3 linked regions of the Homo sapiens genome follow. The protein of the gene in region 2 interacts with the protein of the main gene of each other region in a pairwise test. Each region holds a gene or a part of one and is shown on either strand. Other genes may lie near its edges.

Region 1 (7,919 bases), on a different chromosome or scaffold from region 2:
CCTGGCAAAATACTTACATTCTAAAGGGCATTTAAAGTCGTTTAAAAGTCATTGCTTCTGTGACACTGGGCGAATTATAATAAAATTATTTTATATAATGTTGATTTGTATAAATTTAAATCACATGAATGCTTTCCTGAAGAGACAAAGTCACATTATCTAACGGTAAGTGTACAGTTAATAATATAGCTCTTCAAACTCTGTTCAAGTACAGCAGGTCCTCAACGCTGTTTGGTTGAACGTCACTTCGTCATAATGGTGATGAGAAAAAAAATCGATTCCAGGCCATGGCCACTGTCTGTGAGTAGTTTGCACATTCTCCTCATGTCTGCGTGGGTTTTCTCCGGGTACTCTGGTTTCCTCCTACAACCCACAGCTGTGCTCGCTAGGTTGTGTCTAAGCTGTGCACATATCTAAATATTCTCAGTATGCGTGAGTGTGGGTGTGAGTGTGAGTGCACCCCAGGATAGAAGGGTGTCCTGTCCAGGGTTACTTTCCTCCTTGAGCCCTGAACTCCGGCCACCTGCAATCCTGAAATGGAAAAATTGGTTACATGATCTTACTTGTTTTTATTAATCTTTCTCAAATGTATGTCTAGCTCACATTTATTTCAATGTTTAACATTAGAAGTGTTTTGGTCTTTATCTGGAAGTTTGGTGATGTTTTTGTGACCGGAGATATGCATAGGAATTTAACTCTTGTTTGTATCAAGTAGCCTATGGTGAAATTGTTTTCCTTATATATGCCACTTCGCTTAAAGTCACAATTTCCAAGAACATATCCCTGACATTAAGGACTTACTGTATCTATCATCCTGCTGACTAGTAACTTCCATACCAATAATTACTTAGGCACATAATCCCAGAGTCATTTGATTTAGGTTTATGAATTGTTTCACATAGACATTTGAGTTATGTTATGAACAGCCGCGAATTTCAACATCTTATTCCAATCTTATGAATCACTTTATGGAAGAGGACAATGTATACTTTTTTTTCTGTTTAATATGGGACTATTCAAACTTTAAATAGTAGAGATATTTAAATATAAGGACATCCATATTTTTGTGATATAATTGAATTTTCCCATTTGGTTATTGTATGTGTTTCAAACGGGAAATGAGTGGATACCATTTCTTTTTCTTCACCTTTTTTTCAGCTTTGATGCCACAGGAAGCCAGCTTGCTAGCTCCCTGTTACCTGATAGTTCCCTGACTAAAAAGACTCTTCAGTGAGGATCAGCATTTTACCCTAGACAGGAGTCGTGAATTTTCTTTTTAAAGATACACATATCTCTTAAAAGGGTCCAGAATATTTCCTGCAAAACTGTCTCTGTCATATGAGCACCTATTAGAGCCACTATAAGAAAAGCTAAGGAAACAAATCCATCTTTCCTGCAACAGAAAAAACACACACCCTAAAATGGGCCAAGAACTTGAACATCAGCAAGATTACAGACCAGGGAAAAAAGCAAATAACATTTTAACTGAAAATTTGATTTGAAAAATAAAAGCTTATCCATTGGTTCTCTCACTTCTTTCCCCACTTCTTTCTCACTGCTGGAACTTTGTGAAACATACAGATGATGGAGGAGCATTTGTGTCGACATTCTGAATTTCAATTTTTAATAATTAGGCAGATGGTTGGTTTGTGGTAAAGTCCATTATTGTACAGATTGCAATTTGTATCTAGTCACAAAATATAAGTTACTTTCCTAGGACGATTTCAGGATCTTTTCAGATAGGAAATATTACTGTAATTGAAAAACGACTTAACTTTTAGCCAAGAGCCCATAACATCCAGGTACCTCCGTGCCCCTATGAACTGTTTCTTTTCCTCTCGAGTCTTTATTGGTCATAGCCCTAGATTTCCCATCAAATTCAACCCGGCCTGAGCGGCAGGCAATGCCCCTGCTGGGTGCGGATTGCAGGCCCACCACTGGAGGGCGTCTGGACGCTTCTAAACAGCTCTGAAGCGCCTGGAAATCCCGTCTGAGGACTGGAAAGCGCAGGAGGGTGAACGTGAGATTTGATTTTATTGGGCTAATAAGTAAAAAGGAGTGCAGGCAGGTGTGGGAGCAAAAGTAAACTGCCTTTTTTCTCCTGGGGATCTGCCCTTCCCACTAAGGCAGAAAACTCCCTAGGGAACATGAGAAAAAATACCGCTGCTCCCGAGCCCGCGGACCCCTTAAGGGCGGGTCTCGGGGGCCTGTGGCCCCGCAGAGCAGGCGTCGGGCTCACTTCCTGGGCGCTGGACGACAGTGGGGACGCGTCCCGAGGCGCTGGGACAGTCTCGCTGCCAGGAGATCGCTCTTCAGTGGCGGCTGAAGACCAGGCTTGCAACCTGCCCTTGAAGTCCAGGACCGAGGGGCCTTTTCCAACAATAAAGGAACTGCTTTTCTTCCCACAGCCCCCGCCCCCGGCCCTCATTTCTTTCCGCACCGGGTTCGATAAAGGCGTTTATTCTTTGGGGAGTGGGCAGCAAATCACCCTCAAGGTTGAAATGGAAGAGGTGTGAGGTTATTTCTGAAGGGCTCGTCTGCCGCATTCATTTCCTCTCTGTGGAAGGTTCGCGCTGAATTGTAATCACTTTAAACTGTGATTTGCCTGATTTTTAAAAACGTGTTTTCAGAGCATCACTTTAAAGAAAACTTGCTTCCTGCCCAAGAATCTTTAAATCCCAAGTGGGAAGAGGAGGGCTGAAAGGCACAGGAGGGGTGCTCAGACTTCCAGATAACCCAGCGCCAGGCAGCGTGCGGCGTGGAGAGCGGGTGGAATGGACAGGAACGCGCACTCCCTGAGGCTCCGTTCCAGCCCATCCGTCACCTGCGGGGCACCAGAGACAGATGCCGGCTCTCCAGCCAAAGGGTGGGCACAGGTTCCTTTAAAATCGAAAGACCCTACTCCCAGGTAAAAAGATGTCAAATCATTCCTTAGCCCAGACGGAATTCAGCACCCAAAGGGTTACACGTGGCTGCCGGGCTCCGGCGCAGGAGAGGGCGCCTCGGCACTCCCAGTAATTCAATTAGTCAGGTTTCTAGAAGGTGGGGCGGGGGAGGGGGTAGGAGGCGTGGGGAAGGGAGATTAGGAAAACGCCTCTTTCTCGTGGAGCAAACCAATCCGGTTGGAGTAAAGAGAGAGGAAAAACCCCCAATCTGTAAGCAAACAGTAGGCCGTTCCCTGACTGGTTGCTCCAGCTATCCCCCCACCGCGCTCCCACCCTTCCCAAGTAAACTGCTTGGAAGGAGGAAAAAAAAAAAAAAAAAAAAAAAGACAGTCCACATGACCCGGGCCGCAGCGGCAGCAGCGCTGGCTGGGCGCGGGCTGGCGGCACCTCCCCCTGCTTCGTCCGGAGCTCACACCCGCGCTCGCGCCGCCCGCCCGTCCCGCGTCCCGCGCAACACGCCCGGGCGGAGCCCCATCCCCCCGCCCACGTCCACGTTCACGCGTGCGGCCTCGCGCTCTGCTGAGGCTGCTGCCACTGGGTCGCCGCCGCTGTCGGCTTTCCACGCAAGTCATTAACGAGGGGGCGTGCCCGAGGAGATTTTTTTTCCCATAAAGCATTTTTTCTCTCGCTCTCTTTTTTTCCCCCTCTTTTGCAAAACTGACTTTTACAAAACCCTTTCCACTTCTTGCCAGTCGTTTCAATTCCTCCTGGGCTGCTCGTGCTGCTGCTGCTGCACTCAAGTTTATTTATTTTCCCGCCTGGGTAGGGGTTTTAGGATTCGGTTTGTGGTTTTCACCTCTGTTGCTGCTGTGCCTAAGGAGGGAAAGAGGAGCAGCTGCGGGAGGATCGGGAAGGTTTTCTGATGTAGTCATCGGGGAGGTGCCACTCGCTCGTGCGCTTTTTTTTTTTCCTCTTTTCCCATTTCAAACTGATTGATGCATCTCTACAAGTTGCTAGGCTTGGACCCGCTGGAGTCGCAGGGACACTTCTGAGAGCTCACCCCGGGCTCTTGGCACCGCGTGTGGGGGCTCAGTCTCCCTCTCGGAAGGCGATCGGAGACTGACATCGGCCCATCCAGGAGTTGGAGGGATCCATTTGAAAGTGATTGTTTCCCCTCCCGCTCTCCAGCCGAACAGTTGGGTTGGCGTCGTCTTGCAGGTTTAGGAATCCCAGCTCTGCCAGGCCGGCTGGTCTTAACCTCTGCTCTTCATTCACTGTGGTGCACCCACACCCAGCCAAGGAAAGCACGCGCGAGAAATCCCCGAGGCTCGGCCAGCCCCCGGGGTGCCCTCTTCCGCTACCGCCGCGTTCCGACTCTGCTGGGGGACCTGCCGGAAGACGCGAAGAGCCAAACTTTTCTTTGAGGTTTTCGAGGCAAGACCGCTTCGAAAGCCGGCGCAGCTGCCGCTTAACCAGTTCCAGGACACCGACAAGGCTGGGTTGCGGCTCCGGATCCCCACCCTTCTCGGCGCACCGCCCGGTACCGCAGCACTTACGACTCCTCTGAGATTTCTGGGGGTCGCCCCGCTAAGGCACAGAGGAGGCTGAGGAAAGGGGTTCTCAGACTCCCGGGACCACAAGCGCGAAGCCCTCTATCAGCACGTCGCCCTTCTCCTGCAGTTTCCCACCGGCCGCCAAAGTAACTTGGAGCGAAGCGTGGCGCAGTGCGAGGGCCCCGGGCGGTGGCGGAGCCGTGCGTAGCCTGCTGCGCCGACGCTGAGCCGGGCCCGGCGGGCCGGTGTATGTCTCCCCGCGGCTGCGGCGCGCAACTCCCGGTGACTGTGCAGCGCGCGCCGCCGCCTGCCCCGACCCGCGCTGCAGCCGCCCGGCCCGGCGCGCACCTCCCTCTCCCGGGGTGACCGGCCTGCCGCCGCCGCCCGAGACACAGCTTGGCACCTCTTCCCCCGCCCTCGCCGCCGCCACCACACACACGCACGCTTCTCTCCATCTTGTGATTCCTTTTTCCTCCTGAACCCTCCAGTGGGGGTGCGAGTTTGTCTTTATCACCCCCCATCCCACCGCCTTCTTTTCTTCTCGCTCTCCTACCCCTCCCCAGCTTGGTGGGCGCCTCTTTCCTTTCTCGCCCACTTTCATTTTTATTTATTCATATTTATTTGGCGCCCGCTCTCTCTCTGTCCCTTTGCCTGCCTCCCTCCCTCCGGATCCCCGCTCTCTCCCCGGAGTGGCGCGTCGGGGGCTCCGCCGCTGGCCAGGCGTGATGTTGCACGTGGAGATGTTGACGCTGGTGTTTCTGGTGCTCTGGATGTGTGTGTTCAGCCAGGACCCGGGCTCCAAGGCCGTCGCCGACCGCTACGCTGTCTACTGGAACAGCAGCAACCCCAGGTAAGCCGATAACAGGCGGAGAGCCAGGGCTACCCGGGCCTCGGGGCCCTGCGGAAGGAGCGGCGGCGGGGATCGGCGCGCACCAACCGCTGGCGGCGCGCACCCTCGGAGCCTGCGTCGCCCGGGCGCTGATGGCTTGAGGCGTCGGCGGGAAGCGCTCGCGTCGCGCCCCTCTTTGTTAAGCCGCCGCGGAAAGGCCAGGTACCCCTGGGAGTCCCCGGGGCTGCCTAGACCAACTGCTTCTGCGGGGCGCCGGGAGACTCGGAAAAGGGCGGGAGCCGGGGAGTAGGGACTTCTCTGCTTCCCAGCCCCGGCATCTGGCTGGCATCCGGTTCCCGGCGCGGGGAGCCCCCAGTGTGCGCAGCCGGGAGCTCCTTCCTGGAGCGTGGGTCCGCAGGGACTGCGGAGAGAACCCGCCAAACATCCCCCAAAGTTTTTTTTTTTTTTTTTTTTTTTTTAATTTTAATTTTCCCTTCTCTTTTCCCGGTGCGCGCAGAGAGAGCGCACGGGCTGGGGGAAGTGAGGGGGGCTGGGAAGCGGAAGCTTTAGGTTTTTATTTTCCTCTTCAACTGCGAGGAAATCATTCGGCCCCTGAGTCAGTCTGGGCCCGGCGCGCCTGGCAGTGGAGAGGATTCTCCCATCTTCTCCATCCCTCCACCCACCCCAGTGGGTTCAAGGTGCCAGAAAGTTTGATCTAATGCCGGGTTACGTCATGTGTGCAGAACAAGCTGCCAGAGTTGGCCGAGCCAGGAGGTGGGAGCCCTTCGCCCGCGGCCTGGCGATGTGCTGCCGGAGGAACGCGCGCGATTACCTGGAACCGATTTGTAGGCGTCCCGAAGCCCGCCGGGTATGCGGGAGACTAGAGGTGGGCGCCGGGGGCGGTCCTAGTGCGCGTGCTGGACACCGGCCAGTCGCAGACGTCCCGTGTTTTCGGACCCTGGAAGTGGAGTGGGGAGGTTATCCAGAGTGCCCGGCGGGGTCCTCCGGGTCTGGAGCAGTTCCGAACCTTTATTGCTTCCCGGCCTGTGCACAGAAGTCGGCCCCGCTAGGCCCATACCGCACTGCTTTCTCTGGGACAGAGGCTAGCTTCCAGCTGTGTGCCGGTCTCGGTGCCCTCCTAGGTGCTATTTATTAATAGTACCGATTGCATCTAAAGTCACAGGTTTTTCACTGGGCTGGAGTGGAAGTTGGGAAGAGAGAGGCGGGAGGCCGAGGGGTTAGCCTAAGAGTTGGTGCGCGCCCCGGGCTCCAGGAGAGAGGGTATCGGTGGGCGCCTCCAGTTTTTTCTATCTCCTGCGGGCCCTCTCCGCCTGCCTCCAGCCTCCCCTCAGCATGCAGGCAAGAGAGGGATTCCCTGCTTGAATAATGTCAGCGCAGATGAAGATGGGAAGATTTCCCCACAAGCAGTCCGCCGGTTACAGAACCAGGAGGGAGTTCCCCCTATCCCGCTAGTCCAAGATAGTCTTACTCAGGTAGCCGCCCAAGTCCTAAATGAACCGCTGAACAGGAGTGGAGATATTCCTGAAAGTTTGGTTCAAAAAACAAGAGTCTCCTGGAGGTGGGTGGTGGAATGGGAAGCGATTTCTTCTTTGACATGCCACTTACCACTATTAGGAAAAGAGAAAAAGAAGCCATCCTGCCAGAGGAGAGATGCCTTTTATTAAAGCTGACAAGACAAATAGAGCAAGCTTTCCAGTTGTGATGGTGTTAAAAGCCAGTCTCATTATGTTGGTTAGTTTTTTTTCCCCGTTTGTGCTTTATTAGGCAGCATATACGAAGCAGAAATTTGTATCTCTGAACTTTAGCACCTTATTAAATAAAGCAACACTGAAATAGTTTCTTTGAATTTGGGATATCTTGCTCTCGGTTGTCTTTTCTTTCCCACACCAAGCTCCACATTGTGATCTTTTTCTCATGGCATTCATTTATTTGGATACTTGGGTGTTCCAGTCTTCCTGGGTTAAAACGGAAAGAACCAGCAACACCCCTACTTTAACCCCCCTTCTTAACCTGTCAAGCTAGTCTGAGTTAGTTTGAGGACATTTTATCTTAGGTTATCTCTGTTTTGTGCTTTTGATACTGTTGTTTGGTTTGAGATTAGCACATTGATTTTTGTCACAGGTCATGTTTTTTAATAGATCTGCCCTGCCTGCAGAAAACTCTTCTGCTCAGGATGCCATGGAGGCTTTGAACCTGCCCAGACAAAGTTAATCTGCAGAATTTTAAAATACCAAGAGTATTTCTAAATCGGTATTCTAACTTCAGGTTTGTAGAATTACCTTTCTATTTGATCATTATCAGTTTGATAATGGCCAAAAGAAAGAATGATGTACCCCTCTTAACCCCAAGAGATACAGCCCTAACACTTATTATTCTTAGGAATTTATGGACACATTTATCTTGGTATGTTATCACAGTTAAAAACTTACTTTAAAAACAATATTTTAAAAGTAGGCAGTTTTATCTCTGAAGTGTTGAATAAGATGTTGCTCTTTTGATGCATTAAGAAAAGTCAACTTGGATATAAGAGGCCACATGCCAAATAAGTATTTTAAAAATAAAAACTAACAGTTTTCCACAAACAATAGTAAGAAAATATTTCAGAAAATTTCCACGGGTTTAGTAAATTTT
Region 2 (7,844 bases):
TGCCTTGTGGAGCTCATGCTCTAGCAGGGGAGACAGAGACAAAACATGACATACAGATGTGAGCACTGTGAAGAGAAATGAAGCGGGGCAGGGGAGAGAGTGTCACAGGGCAGCTGCTTTACATAAAGTAAGAAGTGCCATCTGGGCCGCGATCTGAATGGAGTAAGGGGTGCGGCTGCTTGCGCTCTCACACAGTCCAGCCTCCCCACAGGAGATAAGGGGTAGTGACAGGTGGGCGGGCATAGAGTAGGCACTTAATCTACCAGAGTCCCTTCCCTCCCTTCCACTCTGCACCCATGCAAAGGCTCAGCCACCCCCAGCCACCTCTCCCAAGTCCCCGAGTCACAGCCTGGCACCCATTCACCCATGGCTCCCTCCTCACCCTCCCCGGGGCAAATAGGGTTCCAGCCACTTACTTTCCGCAGTGGGGCCACCCACCGGGCCCTCGGGCAGGTCCATGGGCCACCCCTGCCGCGGCGCAGCTGCTGGCAAAGCTACCAGCCTCCCTCCTTCATGGGGAGGGATGGGAAAAGGACCAGCTGGCCCGAGCACTCCTGGAAGGAGAAGCAGGAAATGGTGTCCTCAGAGCAGCCACCAAGGGTCGGGGCCTGCCTAGCCCCACCTGTGCCCCAGGACCTCTGGGTCCTCACAACCTGTTTGTCACCCCCGCTGTGACCTGAGCAGCTCCGCTCTGACCTGTTTTATGGATTGGAGGTGTGGGCTGGAGAACGAGGTGGCTGACATCAAAGGGGCTAGTGGGTGGGTGGGGGAGGTCACTGCCTCCCTTTCTTCACATGGCTTGCCGCCGGTCCAGGCTGCCTGGTCCTCTTCCCTGGCCTTTGTCCCAGCCTCCTATCCCCAGGCTTGTCCTCCAGTCTGTCCCCACAGGGCCCCAGAGCTGACCTGCCCCTCCCCTGCTAAGTACCCTTCCATGGCTCCCTGAATCCTGGGTACGGGTGAGACCCTGGCCCTGACGCCAAGGCCCTGCATGGCTGACCGCCCACCTCAGCACCCCAAATCGCACATGATGCTCCAGCCACTCTGAGCTGCGGACCGCTCCCATGCCCAGGTCTCTGCCTGGGACGCCCTCCTGCATCCTGCTTCGGCTTCACGTGGCCTCTTCCGGGAAGCGAGGGGCCGTGTCTGGCTCCCACACAGCCCTGGGCAGCTGCCATTCTTGCCACATCAGCCTGGATTTGGCCGGCTGGCTTCTCATGGGAGTTTGATCCTGACTTGCCCCTGCTCCTGATCCTCCCATGGCTCCCTAATGCCCCCGGACTAAGTTCCAGTCCCTCAGGCTAGAGTGGCATTGAGTAGTCTCTGAAGCTCCTGCCTCTTCCTGTCCCTTTTCTCTCCGTCGGGCAACCCCTAGGTCTCTCCTCATCATGGCCCCAAACCTGCTGCTCCCCTGGGTTCCAACTCAGGATGTACATGGTCCCCCAAGCCCAGGCCACCTCCTCCTCATCCCTGCCAGCCCCACTTGCAGCTGCTCTGGGCAGTCCCTGCAGCAGTGACAGGAGTTTGGGGGGCCCCATCCTGCCTCCATTCCACCCAGGCCGACCCAAAACCTTAGTGGCCGCACTCTGGGGGCTAGAGAGAGACCTGGGCGCTGCTATCATCACAGCGGGCACGGGCGCCCCTTGGGGCCACCAGTCGAGCCTGGGCTCGCCTGTCCTCACCCAGCTCCCCCAGTGCCTGCTCTCCCCAAGCCACGTGAGCCCGCTGCCACCGTTCTGGAAACACGGGTCTTTGAAGAGAGGCCCTTCCAGGGTCTGGAACACCCTGCAGGGTGCAAAGGGGGGCGATGGCCTTGGCTGGGCCCTGGCGCACGGAGTGGGTTCGGGATGGAGTCCTGAGGGACCCCGGGGGTGTTGGTTGATCTCGGGGGTCTGACGGGACTGAGACGGGGACACTGAAGCAGGATGGGGCCCTGGCAGGAGCTCTGGGTGGTGTGGGCCTTGGCGGGCTTTCAAGGGCTCTGACAGGATTTTGGGGGGGTCTCTGACTGGATTTCTGGGGAGTGTCTGGCTGGATTTTGGAGATTTTGATTTCTGTGGGGGTCTCTGACTGGATTTCAGGGGTCTCTGGCTGGATTTCGGGGGTCTTGATTTCTGCGGGGGTCTGATTGGATTTCTGGGGGTTCTCTGACTGGATTTTGGGGGTCTTGATTTATTCGGGGTCTCTGGATTTTGGGGGTCTTGATTTATGCGGGGGTCTCTGGATTTCTGGGGGTCTCTGGCTGGATTTTGGGGGTCTTGATTTCTGCAGGGGTCTGACTGGATTTCTGGGGGTCTCTGGCTGGATTTGGAGGGTCTTGATTTCTGCGGGGGTCTCTGAGTGCATTTCGGGGTCTCCGTTTCTGGGGTGTCTTTGATGGACTTCTGTGCTCTCTGACGGAATCTGAGGTCCGACTGGGTTTGGGAGGGGACCTGCCAGGATTTCTGGGGATCTCTGACACGAGTCTAGGTGGCTCTGCTGATCTGGGGAGAGTAATAGGATTTTGGGGAAAGTTTCTGGCAGGCTCTGAGGGAGAAGTCTGACAATTTCTAGACGATTCTGACAGGATTTCGGGGGTCAACTATAAGATTTCCTGGTGGACTCCTTTCAGTATATCTGAGGGGATGTGGTCAGGATTTTTTTTTTTTTTTTTGAGACGGAGTCTCACTCTTGTCACCCAGGCTGGAGTGCAGTGGCGCGATCTCAGCTCACTGCAACCTCTGCCTTCCAGGTTCAAGCAGTTCTCCTGCCCCAGCCTCCTGAGTAGCTGGGATTATAGGCGCGTGCCACTACGCCTGGCTAATTTTTTGTATTTTTAGTAGAGACGGGGTTTCACTTCCCCGGGATGGTCTCTATCTTCTGACCTCGTGATCCGCCCGCCTCGGCCTCCCAAGTGGTCAGGATCTGGGGGGCCCTGACGCAGGGGTATCTCTCCCACAATATGGGGGGGCTTCGCTAGGATTTCGGTAGGGGCTGGGAAGGGCCATTCTGGGAACCTCGCCGCGGGGCAGGGCGCACCTGGAGCCACGTCCTAGTCTCGGGACACAACGGACATCCACGAACGACGAACGGCAGTTGAGTTGGGGGAGGTGCGCGTGAGCTTTTCCCGCCAGAAAAAGCAAAAGGAGGCGAGGGGTCGCGAGTGCGCGTGCGCAGCGTCTGAGCCCCGCCCCTCCCCGCCCGGACTCCTCTTAAGACGCAGGTGCAAACCGGCGGCCGACGCGTGTCACGCATGCGCGCTGGCGGTGTGGGCTGTGGCCACGGAGTTTGTCTGGTGGTGGAAGGAGGGGGTGGCTGCGCCCGCCATGCTGGGGCTCGTGTTTTTCTCTTCCGCTTCAGGCTTTGGTGAAATGGGCTGAGGAAGGGGGAATTGAACTGAGAGACTCCTTGTCCGTCCCCCATTTCTTTCTTTTTTTTTTTTTTTTGAGATGGAGTCTCGCTCTGTCGCCCAGGCTGGAGTGCAGTGGGACAATTTTAGCTCACTGCAACCTCCGCCTCCCGGGTTCAAGCAATTCTCCTGCCTCAGCCTCCCGAGTAGCTGGGATTACATGCGCCCGCCACCACACCTGGCTAATTTTTGTATTTTTAGTAGAGACGGGGTTTCACCACGTTGGCCAGGCCGGTACCGAACTCCCAACCTCAGGCGATCCACCCGCCTCGGCCTCCCAAAGTGCTGGGATTACAGGCGTGAGACACAGCGCCTGGCCTGTCCTTTTTATGTATTGCCATATTTTCTTTTCTTTTCTTTTCTGTGAGATCCCTGTTGAGTTTTGTTAACAAGGCTATGCTGATATAATGTGTGGAGAAGTGTTCTCTCTTTTTCTATTCTTTGAAAGTGCTAGTGTAGGATTGATGTTATTTATTTTTTATGTGTTTGGAAGAAGTCACCAGCCATCTGGACCTAGAGTTTTCTTTGTGGAAAGACTTTAAATTACAAATTCTATTTCTTTTATAAAAATACAACTATTCAGATGTTCTATTTTATTTCTGGTAAGTTGTGGTTTTGGTAAGTTGTGGTTTTCAAGGAATTTTTCCATTTTATCTAAAATTTCAAATAATTTGCATAAAGTTCATAATATTGTCTTTTTTTGGAGGGGGAGAAACACGGTCTTATGTTAGGCTGGTCTCGAACTCCTGCCCTCAAATGATCCTCCTACCTTGGCCTCCCAAAGTGCTGGGGTTACTGGCATGAGCCACCATGCCCAATCTTTTTAATATCTGTAAGATCTGTGGTGACGGATATTAATAATTTGTGCCATCTCTCTTTTCCCCCCTCCCTTCCCCTCTGCTCCTCTCCTCCCCTTCCCCCACTCCCCTCCCCTCATCTCCCCTCCCCCGTACCTTCCCCTCCCCTCCCGCCTCCCTTCCCTTCTGCTCCTGTCCTCCCCTTCCCCCACTCCCCTCCCCTCATCTCCCCTCCCCCGTACCTTCCCCTCCCCTCCCCCTCTCTTCCCCTCTGCTCCTCTCCTCCCCCCACTTTCCTCCCCTCATCTCCCCTCCCACCTCCCTTCCCCTCCCCCTCCCTTTATCTCCCCTCCCTTCCCCTCCCTTCCCCCTCCCTTCCCCTCCCTTCCCCTCCCTTCCCCTCCCTTCCCCTCCGCGTCCACTGCCTCCCCTCCTCCCTCCCCTTCCTCCCCTCCCCTCCCCCCTCCTCTCTTTCTGAGACAGGTTCTCACCCAGGATAGAGTGCAGTAATGTGACCCTAGCTCACTGCAGCCTCCACCTCCTGGGCTCAAGTAATCCTCCCACCTCAGCCTCCTGAGTAGGTGGGACTACAGCCATGTGCCCTCAAGCCCCTGATCTTGCTGTTTTTTTTTTTGTTTTTTTGTTTTTTTTTTTTGAGACGGAGTCTCGCTCTGTCGCCCAGGCTGGAGTGCAGTGGGGCGATCTCGGCTCACTGCAAGCTCCGCCTCCCGGGTTCACGCCATTCTCCTGCCTCAGCCTCCCGAGTAGCTGGGACTACAGGCACCCGCTACCACGCCCGGCTAATTTTTTGTATTTTTAGTAGAGACGGGGTTTCACCGTGTTAGCCAGGATGGTCTCGATCTCCTGACCTCGTGATCCGCCCGCCTCGGCCTCCCAAAGTGCTGGGATTACAGGCGTGAGCCACCGCGCCCGGCATGATCTGCTGTTCTTTTTCCAGCTTTTTCCCCCCAACTTCTTGAGGTGAATGCTTAGGTCACTGATATTTTTAGGTTATTAAGCCATTGATTTTTTTTTTGAGACGGAGTTTCACTGTCACCCAGGCTGGAGTGCAGTGGTGCGGTCTTGGCTCACTGCAACCTGTGCCTCCCGAGTTCAAGCGATTCTCCTGCCTCAACCTACTGAGTAGCTGGGATTACAGGCGTGCCCCACCATGCCTGGCTAATTTTTTGTATTTTTAGTAGAGTCGGGGTTTCACCATGTTGGCCAGACTGGTCTTGAACTCCTGACCTCGGGTGAGCCGCCTGCCTTGGCCTCCTAAAGTGCTGGGATTAGAGGCGTGAGCCACCGTGCTGATGCCAGGTCATGTGCCCAGCCAGGTCATTTGATTTTTAAAGATCTCTTCTAATACATGCGTTTAGAGCCATCATTTGCCTTCTAAAAACTTCTGTAGCTACACTTGACACATTTGTTATGCCACATTTCTATTATTATTATTATTTTTTGAGACAGAGTCTCGATCTGTCACCCAGGCTGGAGTGCAATGGCACAATCTTGGCTCGCTGCAATCTCTGCCTCCTGGGTTCAAATGATTCTCCTGCCTCAGCCTCCCGAGTAGCTGGGATTACAGGCATGCACCACCACACCTGGCTAATTTTTGTATCTTTAGTAGAGATGGGGGTTTCTCCATGTTGGCTAGGCTGGTCTCGAACTCCCGACCTCAAGTGATCTGCCTGCCTCAGCCTCCCAGAGTGCTGGGATTATTGGCATGAGCCACCATGCCTGGCCACGTTTCCATTATTATCAATTCAAAATATTTTCTAATTTGACCTGAGTGATAATTTTTAGAGATATATTGCTTACTTTCCAAATATTTTATGACTTCCCTGCTATCTTTTTATTATTTATTTATTTTTGAGACGGAGTCTCGCTTTGTCGCCAGGTTGGGTGCAGTGGCGTGATCTGGGCTCACTACAACCTCTGCCTCCTGGATTCAAGTGATTCTCCTGCCTCAGCCTCCTGAGTAGATGGGACTACAGGCACGCACCACCACAGCCAACTTTTTTTTTTTTTTTGTATTTTTAGTAGAGACGGGGTTTCACCATGTTGGCCAGGATGATCTCGATCTCTTGACCTTGTGATTCCTCTGCCTCAGCCTCCCAAAGTGCTGAGATTACAGGCGTGAGCCACTGCGCCCGGCCCCCTGCTATCTTTTTATTATTGCTTCCTACTTAATTCACTGTAGTCAGAAAACATACAAACATACTCTATATGATTTCATTTCTTTGACATTTGTTGAGATTTGCTTTATAGTCCACGATTTCATCTATTTTAGCAAATGCTTCATGTGTATTTGAAAAGAGTAGCTTGGCGTGGTGGCTCATACCTGTAATCCCAGCACTTTGGAAGGCCAAGTTGGGTGGATCACCTGAGGTCAGGAGTTCAAGACCAGCCTGGCCAACATGGTGAAAGCCCGTTTATACTAAAAATACAAAATTAGCCAGATGTGGTGGCATGTGCCTGTAATCCCAGCTACTCAGGAGGCTGAGGCAGGAGAATTGCTTGAACCCAGGAGGTGGAGGGTACAGTGAGCTGAGATCGCGCCACTGCACTACAGCCTGGGCCAGACAGAGCGAGACTTCATCTCAAAAAAAAAAAAAGAAAAAAAAAAGGCCAGGTGTGGTGGCTCACGCCTGTAATCCCAGCACTTTGGGAGGCTGAGGCAGGCGGATCACCTGAGGTTGGGAGTTTGAGACCATCCTGGCCAACATGGTGAAACCCCATCTCTACTAAAAATAAAAAAAAATTAGTCAGGCATGGTGGTACACGCCTGTCTTCCCAGCTACTCAGGAGGCTGAGGCAGGAGAATTGCTTGAACCTGGGAGGCAGAGGTTGCAATGAGCCGAGATTGTGCCACTGGACTCCAGCATGGGCAACAAGAGTGAAACTCTGTTTCAAAAAAAAAAAAAAAAGAAAAAAAAAAGAAAAGAACAGAGTGTGTATCCTGCAGGTCAGCTATGTCAGGTCAAGTTTGTCAATCATGCTGTTCAAATCTTTAATATCTTCACTGTTTGCTTCTTGTACTGAATGACTGTGGATTTTTCCATCTCTCAGTTCTGTCATTTTTGCTTTATATATGTTGAAGCTGTATTATTAAATGCATACAGATTTAGAATGGTTATATCCTCCTGGTGACTTGACCCCTTTATTACCTTGAAATGTCATTTTTTACTTCTAGCAATGCTTTTTGCCTTAATGGCTACTTTGATGTAGAGATTTCTCCAGCTTTCTTTGGTTAGTGTTTATATAGGGTATCTTTTTCATCCTGTAACTTTCCATCTTTTTGTGTGCTTATATTTAAGGCATGTCTCTTGTAACAGCATATAGTTGGGTTTTGTTTTATGCTGACTGCTGATTTTTGACTTTACCAAAACTCTTAGTGAAGTGTAATATTTATATAGAACAGTCCATAGATCATAAGTGATAAGCTTTATGAATTTTCAGAAATTGAACACATCTGTGTTATCTAAACCGAGATCAAGATACAACATACTACCTGCCTCCAAGATTCTTCCTCATGGCTCCTTCCAGTCCCTACTCTCCTAGGGGTAACTTTTACCCTAATTTCTTTTCTTTTTCTTTCTTTTTTTTTTTTTTTTTTTGAGACAAAGTCTCCTTCTGTGGCCCAGGCTGGAGTGCAGTGG
Region 3 (7,297 bases), about 18 Mb from region 2:
TAGACATGTAGCCGAGGAAGGACGTTACAAATATTACCCAAGTGCCCCGTATCATTCAAAGAAGGAAATAGAGGCCTAGAGAAACAAAACTCTGCACTGCACAGTGTGCGGCAACCTGCCTGGTGCCTGTGGCAGCTTGATGCGTATTTGTGGAGTGCCTTTCATCCCTTAGTTCCCTCATTCCACTGGGTCCATTTCCATTTTCTAGAACATTTTTAAAGTTCAGTAATCAAGAGTATAAATATTCTCAGAGTAGTGAAATTATTGCAAAGCATGGTGGAAGATGGGAATTTTCCCTTTATTTTTATGTATTTATTTTTGGAGATAGGATTTTGCTTTGTTGCCCAGGCTAGAGTGCAGTGGTGGGTCATGGCTCACTTGCACCCTCCACCTCCGGGTTCAAGTGATTCGCCTGCCTCAGCCTCTGGAGTAACTGGGACTGCAGGCATGTGCCACCATGTCTGGCTAATTTTTTTGTATTTTAGTAGAGATGGGGTTTTACCATGTTGCCGAAGGTGGTCTCAAACTCCTGAGCTCAGGCAGTCTGCCTGCCTTGGCCTCCCAAAGTGCTGGGATTACAGGAATGAGCCACTGCGCCCAGCCCTTCCCTTTATTTTAATGTGGAGGGGAGAACCAGTGGGTAAAAGTCTTAGGCTCCACCTAAGGAAATACTTCTCACCTTCAGATCGGAAAAGAAAATGGTCATTTGAACAGGGAGTGAGGCCCACGTCACAGCCACGAGGGTGTGCGCTTGAAAGAACCCTCAGAAACCATGACATGGTCAGGAGTGGGGTGTGCGGTGAGGCCAGGTCTCTCCAGGACCCAGTTCTGCTTGGCACCAGAGCCTTTTAATTCTCCTCTGAGTTGGATCTTGTTCCACCAGGGAGGTTGAGAGGTTGGCCTTTTCTTTCCATATTAATTTCCTCCTCAGTCATCAGACTGATGACATTCTGACCCTGCTGTGTAGTTTACAAAGCATATCAGAGCGTGTTGTGGGCCAGCCCAGGAGAGGAGCTGGTCATATCATTCATGGTGCATGTGTTGGGGAGGGGTGCTCCGGACGGCCTGGGCTGGTTTGGTGCTTGTGCAGTGGGGGTGGGGAAGGCTCTGGCCATGGGGAGATGCATTGCCCCTGGGTGGAATGTGGGCTGGCAGAGCCCCTGGGTTTCCCTCTCACCTGGTGGCCTTCACCCACAGAGGACTCTTTCATGTCCACTATTGGCTCTGCTGCTTCTGGCTGCTGGTGTCCTCTCGTAGTGGCTGCTGTGGGGCCATTTCTCTCTCAGACTTAATTTCATGGGAGCCACTGTAATAGGAGCAAAATCCCCAGGGTGTGGGGTTTGTATTGCAGACTGTGGCTCCAAGAGGCATCTCCAGGACAGAAGGGGCTTTGATATCTTCACCCATCTACACAGGCCTGGGCATTTCCTTGAGTCTCAGTGGGAGGGACACCAGCCATGGGATTTCCTCCTCTTTCCCCGTTTACAATAAAACCGTACTATGGAAACATCATATATGCATGCACCCGGTGCACTTCTGCAGACAGTGGGCTGTGTCTAGCTAAACCCAGCCTACTCTGCTCCAGCTGTTCCCCGAGAGGATTATAAGAGAGGTTGCAGACCCACCTGGATGCTCTGACCTCAGTCATACTGTGTGCCCCAGCTAGGGTAACAAGCCATCCTTCAGTTTGCATAAGACTGAGTAAATTCCCAGGATGCAAGACATTCAGTGCTGAAACCAGGACAGCTCCAGGCAAATTGGGACACTTGGTTATTCTACCTCGGCTGTTCTTCCTCCAGGCCTGCCACTCCATTGGAGTTTTGAGTCCAGATTTCTAGAATGTGCTGCATGCCGAGGAAGTCTGTCGGGGGGCAGGTGAGGGAGAGTGAGATGTCTTCTTTTCTTTTTCTTTTCCTATTCTTTTCCAACACATGCATTCACAGTCTTCACTGTGGCTAGCACAGGAGCCTCCATTGGCCAGCGCCGTATTTCCCTAAGCATTTGGTCTTGGCCCTAGGAACAGAGCTTTTGCTGTCTTTATTTGTCATCTCAAAGTGCATGGCCTTAAACTTGAGGTTCCCCACAGCACTTCACACTCAGCTGACTGCAGCAGGGCACTCTCTTCTGGTCATTTGTAAAGAACATCCATGGCTCCTGGACAAGACTCTTGCTTAGTAGTTGGCAAATGAGCAGAAGTATCCCCCTCCCTGCAGCTGATGTGTGTACCTGGGGCAGTTCCCATCCAAGTTCACATTACATCAGTGTTGGGATTCCATGTGTCTTGGCTTAGGAATCTTGGCACTCAAAGTAGGGGGCTTAGGAGCAAAAGAATCACACCTGTCCTGGAAGGAATGAGGGGGGCCTATCTGCTTGACTTCAAGGGACTCATTTCACTGTTTTTGTTTGTTTGTTTGTTTATTGTTGTTGTTGGTTTTCTGATGTGAAATGGAACAGGGGCAAATCTTTAAAGCTGGTGGAGTCAATTCCACAAACAAAACTTCCCTTCCTTTCTTAAGAGCTTTTTGTAGAAATCAGCCTTGCAATTAGCACTGCAACGTTCCAACCACTTAACACACTTCCCCACTGGCCTTTTGAAGCAAACAAGTATTTAGAAGCTGACAGGACAAAGTCACTTTATTTCTCCTTTTCCTTTACCTTGAAATTGTTCCTAGCCACAGGGCTGGCCACTCCTCACTGTCCAAAAAACTACCCTGATGCAGTATGCAGTGGCAGATCAGTTTAGTAAGGAATAACCCAAGTCACCGAATGCAAGAGAATGAAAACAAAAACAAAAACAAAAAAAACACCCTGTTGCATTAACGCAAGTATTCTCTGGGCTCTGTGTCTCTGGACGTGCATCTTCCAGAACCTGCAGGCGCGTGGCCTGCCCTCCACCTGCGTGGGAATGCATGCTGGATTTACATCCCAGTTACATCGCTTCCAGAAAGACAGGATCTCTGTTGGATGCCCATGAAGCTTATACTGAGTAAATATTGACAAAGTAGTCTAAAGAGCAAACACTTTGACATTTGTAAGGTCCACTGGAAGGTCTTGTATATATTTATACATCAGGAATGAGCACCGCATACCAATTTTCCTGAACTTGTTGTGACATAATTCTGCATGGAGAGTGTGTGTGCACAGGTGGCTGAGAACGGCTGAGTGTTCACATGGGGGACAGGGCTGGGGGCTGGGTGGTAGCTGGTCAGGGTATTTCCTCTCAACTGGAACGAACCCACACCTATCCCTGCCAGGAAACCTACCTCTAAGCTTTTCTGAGACCTGCTTTTCCAGAAGGAAGAAAGAAAAAAAAAAAGCCACAAAATCTTGTTTTTCCCTTATTACAATGGACGTACTTTTCTTTTTACTTGGTAAAAATTTTATTGATGTTTTTATACTTTATATTTATTAAAGATTGAGCCTCAAAAATGTAATGAGTAAAAAATGCTTGCTTAATTTAAATTGTGAATCTGTCTGTTAAGAAATGCATTAGGGGTAGGAGAAGCATAAGACATATTAATTGACAGACAGGAACTGCTGTCTCTGAGGTTGATACAAGTAATTTATTACTTTAGAAATGAATGCCACCTCCAGAATGTGCTTCATTAATTTCAAATTTAGTTTTAATTTCAAGCTGTTGCCCCTTGAGAAGAATAAGGTGGCAAATTATGTTTGAAGAGCAGATTTTTTTTTTTTTTTGCTCCAAAGAAACACCACATTTTAACTGTTTAATTTTACAAATACATGTACCCATCTGGGTTGCTGTGTTTTCCTGAGAGCCCAGAACATATTCTAGGTAAGATCAACAAGTACTAATGCTTTTTTTTTTCTTTCTCTCCTTCTCCCTGTCTCTCTTCATTCCATCCTACCTGTCTCTCTTTCCCACCTGTTATCATGGCAGCCTATGTTTCCGAAGAGTTAAAGGCTGCTGCCCTGGTGGACGAAGGTTTAGACCCAGAGGAGCATACGGCAGATGGAGAGCCCTCGGCCAAGTACATGTGCCCGGAGAAGGAGCTCGCCAGGGCCTGCCCCAGCTACCAGAACTCCCCGGCCGCCGAGTTTTCCTGCCATGAAATGGACAGCGAGTCACACATCAGTGAGACCAGTGACCGAATGGCTGACTTTGAAAGCGGCTCCATCAAGAACGAAGAGGAGACCAAGGAGGTCACGGTCCCACTGGAAGACACGACTGTGTCGGATAGCCTGGAGCAGATGAAGGCCGTGTACAACAACTTCCTCTCCAACTCCTACTGGTCCAACCTCAACCTCAACCTGCACCAGCCCTCCTCGGAGAAGAACAACGGCAGCAGCAGCAGCAGCAGTAGCAGCAGCAGCAGCTGTGGCAGCGGGAGCTTCGACTGGCACCAGAGCGCCATGGCTAAGACGCTGCAGCAGGTGTCACAGAGCCGCATGCTCCCGGAGCCCAGCCTCTTCAGCACCGTGCAGCTGTACCGGCAGAGCAGCAAGCTCTATGGCTCCATCTTCACGGGGGCCAGCAAGTTCCGCTGTAAGGACTGCAGCGCTGCCTACGACACCCTGGTGGAGTTGACGGTGCACATGAACGAGACGGGGCATTACCGCGACGACAACCATGAGACCGATAACAACAACCCCAAGCGCTGGTCCAAGCCTCGCAAACGCTCCTTGCTGGAAATGGAAGGGAAGGAAGACGCCCAGAAGGTGCTGAAGTGCATGTACTGTGGCCACTCCTTTGAGTCCCTGCAGGATTTGAGTGTCCATATGATCAAAACAAAACACTACCAAAAAGTGCCTCTGAAGGAACCCGTCACTCCTGTCGCCGCCAAAATCATCCCTGCCACTCGGAAGAAAGCTTCCCTGGAGCTGGAGCTCCCCAGCTCCCCAGATTCCACAGGTGGAACCCCCAAAGCCACCATCTCAGACACCAACGATGCACTTCAGAAGAACTCCAACCCTTACATCACGCCAAATAATCGGTACGGCCACCAGAATGGGGCCAGCTATGCATGGCACTTTGAGGCCCGGAAGTCGCAGATCCTGAAGTGCATGGAGTGTGGGAGCTCGCATGACACCCTGCAGGAGCTCACTGCCCACATGATGGTCACTGGCCACTTCATCAAGGTCACCAACTCTGCTATGAAAAAGGGGAAGCCCATTGTGGAGACGCCTGTCACACCTACCATCACAACCCTGCTGGATGAGAAGGTCCAGTCCGTGCCCCTGGCAGCCACCACCTTCACGTCCCCCTCCAATACACCTGCCAGCATCTCCCCAAAACTGAATGTGGAGGTCAAGAAGGAAGTCGACAAGGAGAAAGCGGTCACTGACGAGAAACCTAAGCAAAAAGACAAGCCTGGCGAAGAAGAGGAGAAGTGTGACATCTCTTCCAAATACCATTACTTGACTGAAAATGACTTAGAAGAGAGTCCCAAGGGGGGGCTTGATATCCTCAAATCCTTGGAAAACACAGTGACATCCGCAATCAACAAGGCCCAGAACGGCACTCCTAGCTGGGGGGGCTATCCCAGCATCCATGCCGCCTACCAACTTCCCAACATGATGAAGTTGTCCCTGGGCTCGTCGGGGAAGAGCACGCCCCTGAAACCCATGTTTGGCAACAGTGAGATTGTCTCCCCGACGAAAAACCAGACCCTGGTCTCTCCACCCAGCAGCCAGACGTCCCCCATGCCCAAGACAAACTTTCATGCCATGGAGGAGCTGGTGAAAAAGGTCACTGAGAAAGTTGCCAAAGTGGAGGAGAAGATGAAGGAGCCGGATGGGAAGCTTTCCCCGCCCAAGCGGGCCACTCCCTCCCCATGTAGCAGCGAAGTCGGGGAACCCATCAAGATGGAGGCATCCAGCGATGGGGGCTTCCGCAGCCAGGAGAACAGCCCCAGCCCCCCGCGGGATGGGTGCAAGGATGGGAGCCCCCTCGCTGAGCCGGTGGAGAATGGCAAGGAGCTGGTGAAGCCCCTAGCCAGCAGTTTGAGTGGCAGCACGGCCATCATCACCGACCACCCGCCTGAACAGCCTTTTGTTAACCCTTTGAGCGCCCTGCAGTCAGTCATGAACATTCACCTGGGCAAGGCCGCCAAGCCCTCCCTGCCTGCCCTGGACCCCATGAGCATGCTTTTCAAGATGAGCAACAGCCTGGCGGAGAAGGCTGCTGTGGCCACCCCGCCGCCCCTGCAGTCCAAGAAGGCAGACCACCTCGACCGCTATTTCTACCACGTCAACAACGACCAGCCCATAGACTTGACAAAAGGGAAGAGTGACAAAGGCTGCTCCTTGGGTTCAGTGCTTCTGTCACCCACGTCCACAGCCCCGGCAACCTCCTCATCCACGGTGACAACGGCAAAGACATCTGCCGTCGTATCATTCATGTCAAACTCGCCGCTACGCGAGAATGCCTTGTCAGATATATCCGATATGCTGAAGAACTTGACAGAGAGCCACACGTCAAAATCCTCCACTCCTTCCAGCATCTCCGAGAAGTCTGACATTGACGGGGCCACTCTGGAGGAGGCTGAGGAGTCGACGCCCGCCCAGAAGAGGAAGGGCCGCCAGTCAAACTGGAACCCCCAGCACCTCCTGATCCTCCAGGCCCAGTTTGCCGCCAGCCTCCGGCAGACCTCAGAAGGGAAGTACATCATGTCAGACCTGAGCCCCCAGGAGCGGATGCATATCTCCAGGTTCACCGGGCTGTCCATGACCACCATCAGCCACTGGCTGGCCAACGTGAAATACCAGCTTCGAAGGACAGGTGGAACAAAGTTCCTCAAAAACTTGGACACTGGCCACCCCGTCTTCTTTTGTAACGATTGTGCGTCCCAAATCAGGACTCCTTCCACGTACATCAGTCACCTAGAGTCACACTTAGGCTTCCGGCTACGGGACTTATCCAAACTGTCCACCGAACAGATTAACAGTCAGATAGCACAAACCAAGTCACCGTCAGAAAAAATGGTGACGTCCTCCCCCGAGGAAGACCTGGGGACTTCCTATCAGTGCAAACTTTGCAATCGGACCTTTGCCAGCAAGCACGCTGTTAAACTTCACCTTAGCAAAACACACGGGAAATCTCCGGAAGACCACCTTCTGTATGTCTCTGAGTTAGAGAAGCAGTAGCATTTGCTTTTGATAGAAAGGACTGCAGTTTGCTTTGAGGGAAACTGTGGAAGGCACCTTCAGGCCCCCTCTGACTTGTTGTTCTTGGCACATGTTCTTATTTTAACTGCAGAGAATCACTCTGGGCTGGACTGTTTTGTATAACTGTACAGTGTTTAATAGAGGTGCATAATCAGCTGTTGTTACTGGT

Evidence for each region. The genes of interacting proteins can lie anywhere in the genome.
Region 1: the proteins of KASH5 (region 2) and EFNA5 interact in binary tests that used the Homo sapiens proteins (3 or more experiments, as listed by UniProt).
Region 3: the proteins of KASH5 (region 2) and TSHZ3 interact in binary tests that used the Homo sapiens proteins (3 or more experiments, as listed by UniProt).

The regions. Positions count from the first base shown.
Region 1 is NC_000005.10:107,667,858-107,675,776, reverse strand, and holds the start of EFNA5 (ephrin-A5 isoform 1 precursor), read left to right. Parts: upstream 1-4,839; 5' UTR 4,840-5,163; coding exon 5,164-5,288; intron 5,289-7,919. UniProt on the Homo sapiens protein: Cell surface GPI-bound ligand for Eph receptors, a family of receptor tyrosine kinases which are crucial for migration, repulsion and adhesion during neuronal, vascular and epithelial development.
Region 2 is NC_000019.10:49,383,499-49,391,342, reverse strand, and holds the start of KASH5 (protein KASH5), read right to left. Parts: upstream 3,095-7,844; 5' UTR 3,016-3,094; exon of another isoform or gene 1,005-3,015; intron 766-1,004; exon of another isoform or gene 697-765; intron 555-696; 5' UTR 460-554; coding exon 417-459; intron 1-416. UniProt on the Homo sapiens protein: As a component of the LINC (LInker of Nucleoskeleton and Cytoskeleton) complex, involved in the connection between the nuclear lamina and the cytoskeleton.
Region 3 is NC_000019.10:31,276,357-31,283,653, reverse strand, and holds part of TSHZ3 (teashirt homolog 3), read left to right. Parts: intron 1-3,901; coding exon 3,902-7,107; 3' UTR 7,108-7,297. UniProt on the Homo sapiens protein: Transcriptional regulator involved in developmental processes. Functions in association with APBB1, SET and HDAC factors as a transcriptional repressor, that inhibits the expression of CASP4.